Regions from separate parts of the Homo sapiens genome. Here all the other regions are reported to be linked to region 2. Evidence: microRNA targets listed by miRTarBase, many of them from high-throughput screens and not tested one by one. Region 2 holds a microRNA gene; each other region holds the end of a gene's coding sequence.
What was found. Region 2 holds the annotated microRNA hsa-miR-5047 (UUGCAGCUGCGGUUGUAAGGU, at 1,528-1,548, opposite strand). A microRNA usually pairs through its seed, bases 2 to 8, with sites in the 3' UTR of a target mRNA and lowers its output. Matches are read on the target gene's strand: a 7mer-m8 pairs with bases 2 to 8, a 7mer-A1 pairs with bases 2 to 7 and ends in A, and an 8mer does both.

Region 1: the mRNA of DST is a reported target of hsa-miR-5047. The part of its 3' UTR that is shown has no 7-base or 8-base seed match.
Region 3: miRTarBase lists YAF2 as a target of hsa-miR-5047. Seed matches in the 3' UTR shown: 7mer-A1 at 1,003-1,009, 8mer at 1,397-1,404 and 8mer at 2,386-2,393.
Region 4: miRTarBase lists XPO5 as a target of hsa-miR-5047. The part of its 3' UTR that is shown has no 7-base or 8-base seed match.

Annotation. Positions count from the first base shown.
Region 1 is chr6:56,456,230-56,459,229 of GRCh38, reverse strand. It overlaps DST (dystonin), which reads left to right. Exons shown (of 104, transcript NM_001374736.1): 104 at 1-1,234. The coding sequence ends at 225. Among named protein-coding and RNA genes, the nearest start is that of COL21A1, 210 kb to the right of the region's middle.
Region 2 is chr17:64,499,703-64,502,915 of GRCh38, forward strand. MIR5047 (microRNA 5047) reads right to left here and starts at 1,611; the gene lies at 1,512-1,611. DDX5 (DEAD-box helicase 5) reads right to left here. Exons shown (of 13, transcript NM_004396.5): 9 at 2,737-2,847; 10 at 2,460-2,521; 11 at 2,308-2,367; 12 at 847-1,071; 13 at 1-624. The coding sequence ends at 221. It overlaps MIR3064 (microRNA 3064), which reads right to left and starts at 1,137; the gene lies at 1,072-1,137.
Region 3 is chr12:42,157,938-42,161,150 of GRCh38, reverse strand. YAF2 (YY1 associated factor 2) reads left to right here. Exons shown (of 4, transcript NM_005748.6): 4 at 325-3,213. The coding sequence ends at 562. Among named protein-coding and RNA genes, the nearest start is that of GXYLT1, 15 kb to the right of the region's middle.
Region 4 is chr6:43,521,333-43,524,545 of GRCh38, reverse strand. XPO5 (exportin 5) reads left to right here. Exons shown (of 32, transcript NM_020750.3): 31 at 1-75; 32 at 541-2,212. The coding sequence ends at 678. POLR1C (RNA polymerase I and III subunit C) reads right to left here. Exons shown (of 9, transcript NM_203290.4): 9 at 3,033-3,213. Among named protein-coding and RNA genes, the nearest start is that of POLR1C, 5.8 kb to the right of the region's middle.

The DNA.
Region 1 (3,000 bases), not on the chromosome of region 2:
GGAAGCAAAGCTGGCAGCAGGGCCAGCAGCCGCCGAGGCAGTGATGCATCAGACTTTGACATTTCAGAAATCCAGTCCGTGTGCTCAGATGTGGAAACTGTCCCCCAGACACACAGACCTACACCCCGAGCAGGTTCTCGGCCATCCACAGCGAAGCCTTCAAAAATCCCCACGCCCCAGAGGAAATCACCTGCCAGCAAATTGGACAAGTCCTCAAAGAGATAGTGCAATTGGTTCTACCAAGGCCCTTCCTTGAGCATTTATTATTTAAGTTTGAACGATGTAAAATATGGTGTAGAAATTCTTGTGAAATATTGCAAGAGGCGAGTTTAAAATTCTGCAGATGGCCTTATTTGTGTATTTGTCTTTTTATTTTATCTGTATAATTTTTTTTGTCAGATATTCTGGGGTTAAAGTCACATCATATGTGAGGAGGAAAAGTTTAACATGAACTAACATTTCTGCACTGTAACGTGCCGGGCACACACTAAACTCAGTTACTGTACCTACAGGTAAGTCTACATCCTCTCTGACAGCCACAGCACTACATCAATCCCTGACGTTAGGGATACCTCATGACATTTTCCTGTTTTTATGGAAACTCTGAGAAGCTGAATGATACATGCAGGGGATATTTTTTGAGATGATTTAAATGTAAACCAAAAGATGGAAGACAAAAAGACAAACACACCCACACGCAGTCTTTGCAGTATCTGACAGAGAACTCACAGGAAGTTACTTCAAGCACTTGCCAGTACTATGATATTCAAGTACCTTGCAGCATTTCTCTGCCATTGCTTTCAATGAGGCCAGAGGCATCCTGGATATTAGACCTATTATACTGTAAGAATATAAGTATAAAGTGCGTTCATATACATGTGAGGTTTTCTTTTGCTTGAGTGGACAGTAGCACCTGTATCATTGAACTCATTTTGTATCAGAGCAATTTTGCTTGCAGAAAGCTATGAAATAAAACACGTCCCTTAACTGCATTGCTATGGAATTAATTTTTTTTCCCCAGGGAAAACTAGTGTATTTTTTTATGAGCAATATCAATTTGGAGTGACCAAAAGATACTTAAAAATGGGTTTATTTTGATTTCTCATCTGAAATAATCATGTTCTGGTATTATATCTATCTATATTTAATAAATATATACATTTTAATTTATTATGTGTACTCACATACTATAGAAAGATATTAGTATGCATTTAATAAAACATATTCACTTGAATATATGGAATACCTGATTATTTAAAGTGAACTTCTTCTATTATTTGTTTTAAATAAAGGTTATATGTATGATATATGTTTACTAAGAAACAAATAGGGTAAATTTGGGGGACATCAAAAACAGGGAGTTATAATAATGTTAACCACTCTTTCAACAAATATTTCTAATAAGTATTAGCCATGCACCAGCCATTGTAAGTGACATGAAACTATAAGGTTCCTGCCCTCCCCTCTTCAAGAGGGAATCAGTTAATAAGTCACTAAAAAGCAAGGGATGTGTGGCAGGATTACAGATTTAATTAAGGTAATATAGTAGTATTCTTCTGGCCTCTGTACATTTAAAAGTCAAATTGTAAAATTTTCCTGAATATGAAAATAGTATCAGATATCCTCAGAAGGATGGCAGGTTGTAACTTTAGGTATGAGGGTCCCAACATTCTGCATAACTTTGTGGATTTGCTGTAGCAAATGTCACTGATGGTGTTCAGATTCAAGGGAACATTATTACATTTTTCTTTCTTGGCCTTTTCAGTGGAGGCCAACACTGAAGAGCCTGGAGTTTCTATTGGCATAAATTAGGTGCTATTTTTAAGCAATAGTAATCCCTTCTTTGTCCAGGCATGGGTCTCAGGTGGGAGCCCTTGATGAGAAGGGGAATTCTAACCTATGAGATCACATGCTATTTAGTTCATGCATTTGATTATTAACATGTCATCTTAGAAGGCAATTGAAATTGTTTTTATTCCTTTAGTGCTTTGCATATGATCACATTTCCACTTCAAAGACAAATTTAAGGCAATGATTTTTATCTCAGTCTGTTTCTATGCTACCCCTCCGAAAGAGCTAGGGGTTTTTCTTTTTAAGTAGTAAAATAAGCTTTTTGGAAAAGATAAGTGGTTTAAAATAAGAGAAGTCTTAAGGAACTGCTCCCAGTTGTCAGTATTTGCCCCAGGTGAGCTTTTCAAACTTTGACATGATGCCTACTCATTTCTTTCCTCTTGTGCTAATAGTCCTAGAGCCTCAGGCTGACTTCTCTAGTGTCCTGTAAGTTTCAGTTAATGTAACAGAAACCTCTTCCCCACCCTACACACATTCCTTCTCTTTTCTTTTTCTCTTTCTTTTTTTCGTTTTTTTTTTTTTTTTTTTCTTTAAAAAAAAGAACACTACAGTGAATCTCAACTCTAAAAATCTTAATTGGAAAAATTGAATCTTAAGCATTAGGGAAGTTGAATCGTGGACTTTTTTTGTTTTAAAAATCAAAGCTCCTAATTCGCATGTACTGCTACCTTCTTTGGAAATAGTGGACTGTCCTCTTTGACATCCGTGCAGAAGTAGATGGGCCTGGCCAAGTCTCGGATATAGGTGGGAGAGTTTGGGAAGTGCCCCCATGGCTGTCCGGGATTGACCTGTAAAATGAAAAGGAGGCGGAGGAGAAGAAAGGATCTTGTTTCCTTTTTTGGATCATTTTAAAAGTTGCTTTCCGTATTTGTAGTAAGGGAAATTGTAATGAGATACAGTTATCTATTCCTTTTTGACAAGGTGCTTTGAAATGTGTGTTTTTATTGTTAAATGGTGATCTGATACCACCAAACAGTACATTTGCCATGCCTGCTTGTCTGTGTATGTCTGATGCCACTGCCACTGGGGTCCCACAAAGAAGGCAAAGACACTTGAGCTTTGTCTTTTAGTATAATACTTTAGTAACTAAGGTCCTTTCAGGCATGTTGAGGATGGACTTGTCAGTTACCAAAATCTGCTTGGAAGTCA
Region 2 (3,213 bases):
GAAAACACTGCCTGCATTTTCTAGTACAAAAAAAACCTAAAAATTGTTTCAGGAATGTAGAGAAATATCCAACTTAAATAGCGAAAAAGTGCACCATAATTACTGCTGCACTGCAGTCATTTCTGCAATTCCCATGTTTCTTAAATAACTATCTTGTCAGATAACACACAATATAAAGAGCAATTATGAAAAACAGACATTTACATATACTTCTAAAGTCTTATTGGGAATATCCTGTTGGCATTGGATAACCAATCATAGGTGCAGCTGCAGTAGCAGGATATGCATATGCCTGTTGGTTCATACCATTGTGCATATTTGGAACATTACTTCCGTATTGCTGAGTGCTATCATAACCATTCTGGTAAGTCCCTGTTGGATTACCAGTCCTAAAACTGGTCTGTATACCAGCAGACACAAAATTACTTCCAAAGCTCCCATTGGTGTAATTTGCAGCACTGTAAACACCATTCTGAGTTTTTGCCCCAAAATCTCTTTTAAGCAGGCTAGAGTAACCTCTGTCATAATTTTCCCTGTCTCTAAAGGTATTAAATCCACCCCTTTTGCCCGCAGAGTATCTGTCCCGACGGTCATCCTTCATGCCTCCTCTACCCCTGGAACGACCTGTCAAGAAAACAATTGCAAATTGATCAATTATGTCTATGACACAAATCATTGTGGACAGAAAGAAACAGATCTATTCATGGTAGGCGTGAAATGTTTTTACAATTTTTCAGCTTAAGTTTTCACATTCAAGGTTTTACTCACCCTCCAATACCATTTAAATGGATTTGTAGACAACGATGTGACTCGTAACTACCAACATTTCCTATCAGTCATCCTTACCTGAACCTCTGTCTTCGACCAACTGAAGCAACTTGGGATTAATTGCTTGATTAGCTTCACGAAGCACAGAGATAAGGTCGCTCACTTGCTTTATGTTATTAGGTGTAAAGAAAGTGTATGCTGTGCCTGTTTTGGTACTGCGAGCAGTTCTTCCAATTCGATGAATATAATCCTCTGAGGAGTTAGGGTAGTCATAATTGATGACAAATTTCACATCTTCCACATCTGTAAGGTGTTGCAGTGTGGCAAAATAGCAATGTACGGAGTTTTGCACACCACAACAGCCAGACCAAAAATAAAAAGTTAGACAATTGTATTCCCAAGAAGGTACGGGCTGCAAAAAATACAGTTAAAATGGTTATCCATTTCCTGTAGGAATACCATTGAGGTTGAAAAAAGAAAAAAAAGCACATGTCATCTGTATAATTCATCACCCACCCAGTGACAGACCCTGTCAAAAGGAATGTGTGTTCCCTAAGCACATTCCCAAATCAGCAAGTTCCCTTACAGATCATCAAGTGACATCTGAATGCTTCTGCGCAGTAGGGCCACTTAAAGTTTCACAGCAACCTCTTCATGTGCTCATTTTGAGGACCTTGAAACAAAAAAATGTACAAGGTCCTTTGCATTACACATTCATCAGAAGTTCAAAATTCTGGCCACACTGCTTGTCTTGCCAAGACCTTACAACCGCAGCTGCAAGAAAACATACCTGTCCCCCAAAAGTTGTTTTTATGCACTGTGTCTCGTCTAGGCAAGCGCTTCCAAGAAGCCAGGATTCACTTGAGAATGTGTCTCTCTCTGGCAGGTCTCGACATGACGACTACTGTGTAGGTGAGGGAGGAACTTTCAAAGCACTTTCTTTTCCCACTTACTATGTGTGAGAAGTTGCTCCTGCTCTAGATCTCATGTGCCAGTACTCACCAATTTGTAAAAGGCTTAGTACCTTTTAAAGCTGCTCTCTCCATTTCAAACTTGAACAAAAATTTCATTGAACATTGAAGTTTGGAACTACTTCTTCGACATTTCAGCAAACTCACTGAAACTCAAAGACCCACAGATCACAGTGAACAGTTTGAAACAAGGCTGTACCATGGCAGTCATGCAAAGCATGGGACAGAAGAAATACCACGGCAGTGAACTGTGAGGATAACTTCCATTTTTTCCCTCGGAGAGAACAGTTTACGGGGCAGAGGTGATATGTTCTGCCTTTTGAAGATTACTGGCACACGTTCAGCTTTTTCACCTCTCTAATCGACTGGAAGCAGCCAGCCGATCACTAGTCCTCCATCCCCCTCGAGTCCTCCGATTGTCATGCCTAGGCCTTGCCACAAAGACAGCACCTTTATGTGAAAAAAAACTTAGAAAAAATGCAGGTTAAAGAAAGCAATAAACTTTCTTTAAAAAAGTTAAATGGAGATCTTCTGGGAAACCAAGCCATGAATGCGAGTTTGTACTAACCTAGCCCTCTGGAGGCCACATCTGTAGCAATCAGAATAGGAGCTTTTCCATGTTTGAATTCTACAAAGGAAGGCATATACATGATCAATTATCTGAGCAGAATTCTAGCTAGGTTAAGTAAGGGGGAAAAATACTTCATTTGAAATATTTACCATTTAGAACCCAGTCACGCTCTTGTTGACTCTTGTCACCATGGATACCCATGGCAGGCCACCTAAGTTAAAAGACAAGTTGTGTTATTAAACTCACATTGAAAACCTCAGACTCCAGTGCTTGACCACTTTTGGTCACAGATCTCTTTAATTTCGCCAGAAATGAAAAAGTTAAATTCACTATCAGATATGAAAAAAATCCACTGCTCGTGATCCAAGTTTGCCCTTTCCTAAGCTGTTTTAATCAATCTGCTTCAATGGAGGAGCTCACACATACCCATCTCTCCTCATTTTTCTGGTAAGCTCATCACATCTTCTTTTGGTTTCCACAAAAACAATGGTTTTATTCTCCTTCTCACTCATGATCTCTTCCATTAGACGAATAAGTCTAATAATAGGAGAGAGAAAGGAAAAATCCTGAGTTTTAAAAGACCATTGCTAGGGCCACACATTTATGGTCAGCAAAACATTAAGTTCAATTTACATGGCTGGAAGTCAAAGAGGAAACGCCTGCTAATCCACTTATCGAGCAGTTCGACCCTTGGTCCTTAAGTCAACCAGGGGACACATGAATTCCTTCTATAGGAAAGCTATAAATGGTGACAGCCATTATTTGAAGGATTCAAGAAATTTTCAGGATTAGTAGGCTAACTAAATGAAATCACACCAACTGAAATAACCTAAAACAACTCACCAAACAATGATCCCTCAATTTTACAGCAAAGTTGTTAGGAAGCAAATATAACAGAGTTAA
Region 3 (3,213 bases), not on the chromosome of region 2:
GCAACTATTTCATTGTTGTCTAAAACATCTATTTTAATAAAATTAATAAGCTGTCTGCAAAATTATGATACAGCTATAGAAGCACAAGTTCTACTTCTAGGCTGTCACAGTTTTTTGGTTGCATTGAAGAATGTTCATGAATGATTGGTTTGATTAATGTTAATGAGTTGAAACATTTTATGATGTTTTTGTGGCTAGTTACACATAAATTGCCTTAAATACATGTATTCATTTTGTTACTTTTACCACTTTTATTATTTATTATATGCTCAGAAATTTGGTAGAGGGAAAAGCTAGTTTAAAATTTCATTTTTTTATGTTTAGGCCAAGATTGAAAAATGTGGATCGGAGTAGTGCTCAGCATTTGGAAGTTACTGTTGGAGATCTGACAGTCATTATTACAGACTTTAAGGAGAAAACAAAGTCACCGCCTGCATCTAGTGCTGCTTCTGCAGATCAACACAGTCAAAGCGGCTCTAGCTCTGATAACACAGAGAGAGGAATGTCCAGGTCATCTTCACCCAGAGGAGAAGCCTCATCATTGAATGGAGAATCTCATTAAAGTTTATTTTCTCCAATTTCTTAGTCACTTCTGTCCTACCATGCAAATACACAGATTATGCCAAGAGGTACCACATTTTCATGACAGATACATTCATGCACAATCCATAATTTGAGTTTTACATAAAATAGAAATTTGTTAGAATTTGTTAGATTTTATTGCAATGATGCCTACCAAACATTTCCAGACTTAACATTTTGGTCTCTGCAGTTAAGTGCCATGAAAATGTGGTTGAATTATTCATTATGCAGTGTTATTGGTAAGTGTATTTTCACTTTTAGTTTAGTGAATTCTAACACATAATTCTTGAATTCTCTACTATTGGCATGTAACGAATTTAAATTTTTTATAACATAGTGCAAGCTGCCTAAATATGTATTATTTGAGAATTGTGAAACAGATAGTTATATGTATACAAGTCAAAGAACAACTTAACTATTGCTGCAACAGGTTTTTCTTAATGGTTATCCTCTTAAATACACCTGCTGGTACTTGGTGTGGTTAAATAGGAAAATTGTTATTAAATAAAGAATTTGTATGAACCTTTGCCAATGTTTTTGACACGTTTTACTAATTATTGTTCCTGAATTATGTTTCTGGTTTTATCTATTTTTTGAGGTTTTTTTGTTTGCTTATTTTTCAAAACATTCATTTATTGTAATGTTTACTAGCGGACTAGTAAACAATAAAACATTGATTATTTAGCTTTATAATTCAGGTTTAGTGCTATTGTCATTGAACACTGGTATTTTCTGTATCATATAAAACATTAAAATTCAAATAATTATAAGCATTTGGCAAAAACAAGAGAAAAGAAACTTGCCATATTTTACAAGCTGCAATTTTAGAAAAGCTTTAACTTAATGATAGTTTTATCATTGTTTTCTTGTCCCAAACTTATCCAGGGCCATAGAAGTATGAATCTAATTAAAACAGAAATGGGAATTATTGCACAGAAATGGGAAATAACTAATTTTAAATCAGTCAAATTGGCTTCTTATTAAATACAATAATTCTTATGAAAATCATAGTACCCTATTTTCAGACACAGCTGCCAGTTTACACATTTCTCAGTATCCTGAAAGGAAAAAAGTATAGCCCCACTTATACTATGTAAAATTACCAATAAAATATTTTTATGACTACAGATTTTGCATTTTTGTTTACAACTATTTAAAGAGTTTTATGTTGTATTTAGAATTTCAACCTAGAAACCACACAGTACTTAAATTCTCCTGGGGTCTCCTGCTTTCTCTTAACCATTTGCTTAATATATATCTACCTAAAGGAGACTTCTGAATTGTAAATGAACTTAAAAATAGAATGTGGATGCAAAATATCACATAAGACATCATGATAACATTTGAAGAAAAAATAAAACTGTAGACCCTAACAGTTGTGATATTTGGTGGTTTCATGTGGTAATGTAATTTTCTGTTTAATTACAGTACTTTTTACAGGCACAGTGGTACTGTCTTTTTTGTAAGATGCTAGTTGTGAAATACAATTAATTGCATACAGTAAAAGTCTGTGATTAAAACATTTATATACCTCATTCTTTAGTGTTGTTAAATGAAAAATTAAAATTTGTGTTTATTATAAGATACTTTCAATGGAATACCAGCTAACCAGATATGTTCCTTTAAAACATGAATTTTTTTGTCTTATTCTGTTTTTAACATGTTTCAAATGTTTTATACATTTTTGGAGATAGTAAAAATTTAAAAATGTAATAGGGAAAATATTTAATTTTTAAGTCAAAAACTATGCTTTAAAGGAATTACATCTTATGATCAAATAACTTTCAGGATGTATTTTAAATGAGCTGCAAGAGAGAAAAATCTGACAGGAGATGGGATTTTACCTGAATGGAGCATACTCATATTTCTACATAGGTGGGAAGATACTCATCTTTCTACATAGACGGGAACACGGTGTAGCATGGAGATTAAGCGTGCTAACTGACACCTCATGTTTGAATCCTGTTGTAGAATGGAAATGAGCTTAAATTACCCAAGCTTACTTTCCATCTATAAAACAGGGCTAATAATGGTAATCACATCTAATTTATAGGGTTTTTGGGAGGATTAAGTCAATCCGTGTAAAATTCTTAATTATCTGACACATACTGGTCACTCAGTAAATGTGAGCTTTTACCATTGTTATAGGTAAAATCCCATTACAAAAATACAAAAATATTTTTTGTAACAGTTATTTTCCTGCCCTCTTGGATGACCTAAAGTAATAGTGTTTTATAGATTTCACTAAATTTTCAGTGTAATATCAGATGTTTTCTCTGGATGCAGAAAGACCATCTTTCCATAATTAAAGAACCTGGTGGGTGTGCACTATGAGATTGGAGAAATGAATTAAGTTGACTTGAAATTATTTTACTTTTATTAATCACAGGTATCTCAACCTGCCTTTGTTTCACCCTACTTCAAGTACACTTCCACACCAGGAAAACAGACCCAAATTCCATAAACAGAACTGACGTTAAAATATGCGAAAGATTCAGAACCTAGGTTTAGGGTACATGTTTTTCTCTGTTTCATGAACTTACAGTGTGGTTTGAGCACTGGGTTCTTTTAGCCAAATTCCATACAAAAAGAATTTGGATGTTTTCCAGCATTTATTACCTTACTTTGCTA
Region 4 (3,213 bases), not on the chromosome of region 2:
AACCCCTCCCTGCAGAAAGTGGCTGACAAGCGCCGAAAGGACCAATTCAAACGCCTCATTGCTGGTTGCATTGGGGTAGGTCATGCACCTTCAATAGTGCTCCCAACCCCCTTCTTAAATCATGTGTATGGGCAAACCATAAACCAGCTGTAGTTATTGACCATTATGGTGAGATTTTTTTTTTTTTTTTTTTGAGATGGGGTTTCACTCTTGTTGCCCAGGCTGGAGTGCAGTGGTACGATCTCAGCTCACCACAACCTCCGCCTCCCAGGTTCAAACGATTCTCCTGCCTCAGCCTCCCAAGTAGCTGGGATTACAGGCATGCACCACCACGTCTGGCTACTTTTTGTATTTTTAGTAGAGACGGGGTTTCTCCATGTCGGTCAGGCTGGTCTTGAACTCCTGACCTCAGGTGATCCACCCGCCTTGGCCTCCCAAAAGTGTTGGGATTACAGGCGCGAGCCACTGCGCCGGGCCAAGAGAATCTTTTAACTACTACTGAGGGCCCAGCATTAATTCTTTCTCATTTGTTTTCCACAGAAACCCTTGGGAGAGCAGTTCCGAAAAGAAGTTCACATTAAGAATCTTCCCTCACTTTTCAAAAAAACAAAGCCAATGCTGGAGACGGAGGTGCTGGACAATGATGGGGGTGGCCTGGCCACCATCTTTGAACCCTGAATCAAGCTTTTGGGCATCCTTCCTCGGCCTTTCTTGTCATCTCTTCTTTCCCTTTGTAGCCGATCTCTAGGCCCTTCTTGCACTGCCACCTCACTTTCCACCACTGTCAGCCTGGAAAGAGATCCAGGTCTGGAGCTGGAGAGAACAGGCCCTGTGCAGGACCAGAAGTAATTATACTAAAGTATCAAGAAAGGGAGTTAGGGCTTAAACTATTCTGTCTAGATGTCCCAGATAGTTCCCATTCTACTTGGAGATTTGGCTTTTCCAAGAAAAGCTAGAGCAGAGCAGCCCTTCTCCCACAAGCCCTCCCACCCCCGTGCAGCCACATACCTGTACAGAATGGTAACTAAGGGTGCTGTGCCCAACCCTGCGACTAGCAAGGCTCGCAGCAAGAGCACAGCCCTCAACTACTTGTGCCAGAGTTTCTCTTGGACCACTCCAACTCCCACTGAGCCCTTTTGCTGCTGGGCTGGCAGGAAACTTTCCCCACTCCCTAAGGGGCATGTCTGGGTTAGGTGCTAAGTGCTGAAGAGAACTTGGTCAGTTCTCTCAACTTTGCTTTGGGCAAGAATCTGGTCACCTGATGGGATCCATGGTACAGGCTACTGCTAAACTTGGCACAGTATCAAGTATAGTACCTCCAAGGACCAGGGCTGGGAAGTCTTTAGTGCTAACATCCCCTTTAGAGTTCACACATCTTGCCCTTCCATGAATGACCCCTCAGTCTGGCCTCCCCAGCCTCAAGGTCCACTCAGGCACAAGAGCCACAGTACCCTAGATAGTGTCACATGACACCGTTGTCATCCAAGGATAATACAGACCAACTAGGCTACATCTGTGATGAGCAGCTAGCAAAGCCGCTGGTCTTCTCCTAGGACTAAGTCCAGGTGCCTTCCACAATCTCATGGTCTTTCAGGTCCCTGGTTACTTTTCTCAAAGGCCATTTCCAAAAGAATACATGCCTTCACATCACAACCTGTACTGTGAGTCCATTCTAGAGGTCACTGAAAGGCCCTGTAAAGAGAGGACATGGATACGGGACCTGGCCCTGAGGTTATTACTGGCCGTAAGGCAGAGTTAATCCATACAGAAACCAGTGTGTCCATGTGCTCTGCACAAAAACAGACCTGTTGTCCATCCAGTCCACTGACAAGAGGGTTTCCCCGAGAGCCGAAGTGGACTGAAGCTACAGTTTTTAGCTGGTGCGGGCCACAGGCAGGGTCAGATTGAGAAGAAGCAAAGCTGGGGAAGCAGAAGTTGGGAGTCTTGTGTTGCTCCCTCTTCCTGTGTGGTGCTCTGGGTTTCTGTGGATCGTGAAGGCGATCTCAAGAGTGTTTCCCTCCAAACCTGATAGCTGCCTATTCCTGTCTGGTTGGGGCTGTGGAGGATGTAGTTGTATTTATTGCATTGTAATATTTTTAACATCCTGTGACTTCATGCTAGAAATTTTCTATTGTTTATAGAAACTTTTTGTAGAAACATTAACTCTAAAGCACATCTGCATGTCAGTAAAAATCTCAGTTTCGTACAGAAAGGGACCCATCTGCCTTTTTCAACCTAGTCTTAAAACCAGTGACATACTCCAGGGTTACTTCATGAGCACCCGGGACTAAAACAGGAAGAAATGTGACTGATGATTCTGGTCTTTCAAGCTTTCTGAAATGGTGTGCCAGTTAGAAAAGGATTTCTATTCCTGACATACCCAGACTAGGCAGCCCATACCATTCTCACAGTGTCTTTCGTGTGTGGCTGCTGGGCCTGGCCCACAGGAATTGCTACTGTTCTTTGTTGGAGCTGTCAATAGCAACATGAACTTCCCTGGTAAACCAGGAGATAGGTGAAGTGGCACATTCACTCTAGCTTGAATGTTTTTCTAGGGTTTGGCTGTGCTCCCAGAAACCACCTTAATTTGCCAATTCTCAGGAGGTGTTCTTTCTGTTGTTTTTGAAACAGGGTCTCACTGTTACCCGGGCTGGAGTGCACATCTGATGTTCTTAATTGGTAAATGCTAAACCAGTTCTGAAGTGAGGCCCCCTGTTTTTCGCGGTGGCTCACACCTGTAATCCCAACACTTTGGGAGGCCCCAAGGCAGGCGTATCACTTGAGGTCAGGAGTTTGACACCAGCCTGACCAACATGGTGAAACCCTGTCTCTACTAAAAATACAAAAAATTAGACATATAGCTAGGTGTGGTGGTGCATGCCTGTAGCATCAGCTACTCTTGCCTCAGCCTCCTGAGAATTGCTTGAACCCAGGAGGAAGCTGCAGTGAGCTGAGATTGCACCACTGCACTCCAGCCTGGGCAACACAGTGAGACTGTCTCAAAAAACAAACTCAAAAGTAGTCTCAAAAAGTTTTTTTGTTTGGGTGAGTTTATTTACATCTAAGGCCTTATAAAGGCGTAAAAAGTCTCATTTTATGGCACATTTAACAAAATGTATTGATTAAAGCTGGAATTGTCCCAGAAAACTCAGGATCCCTAGTCACACTGGGCTCTCTGTTCAGCAGTCCTGTAGGGTGGGTCAGTCAGAACCC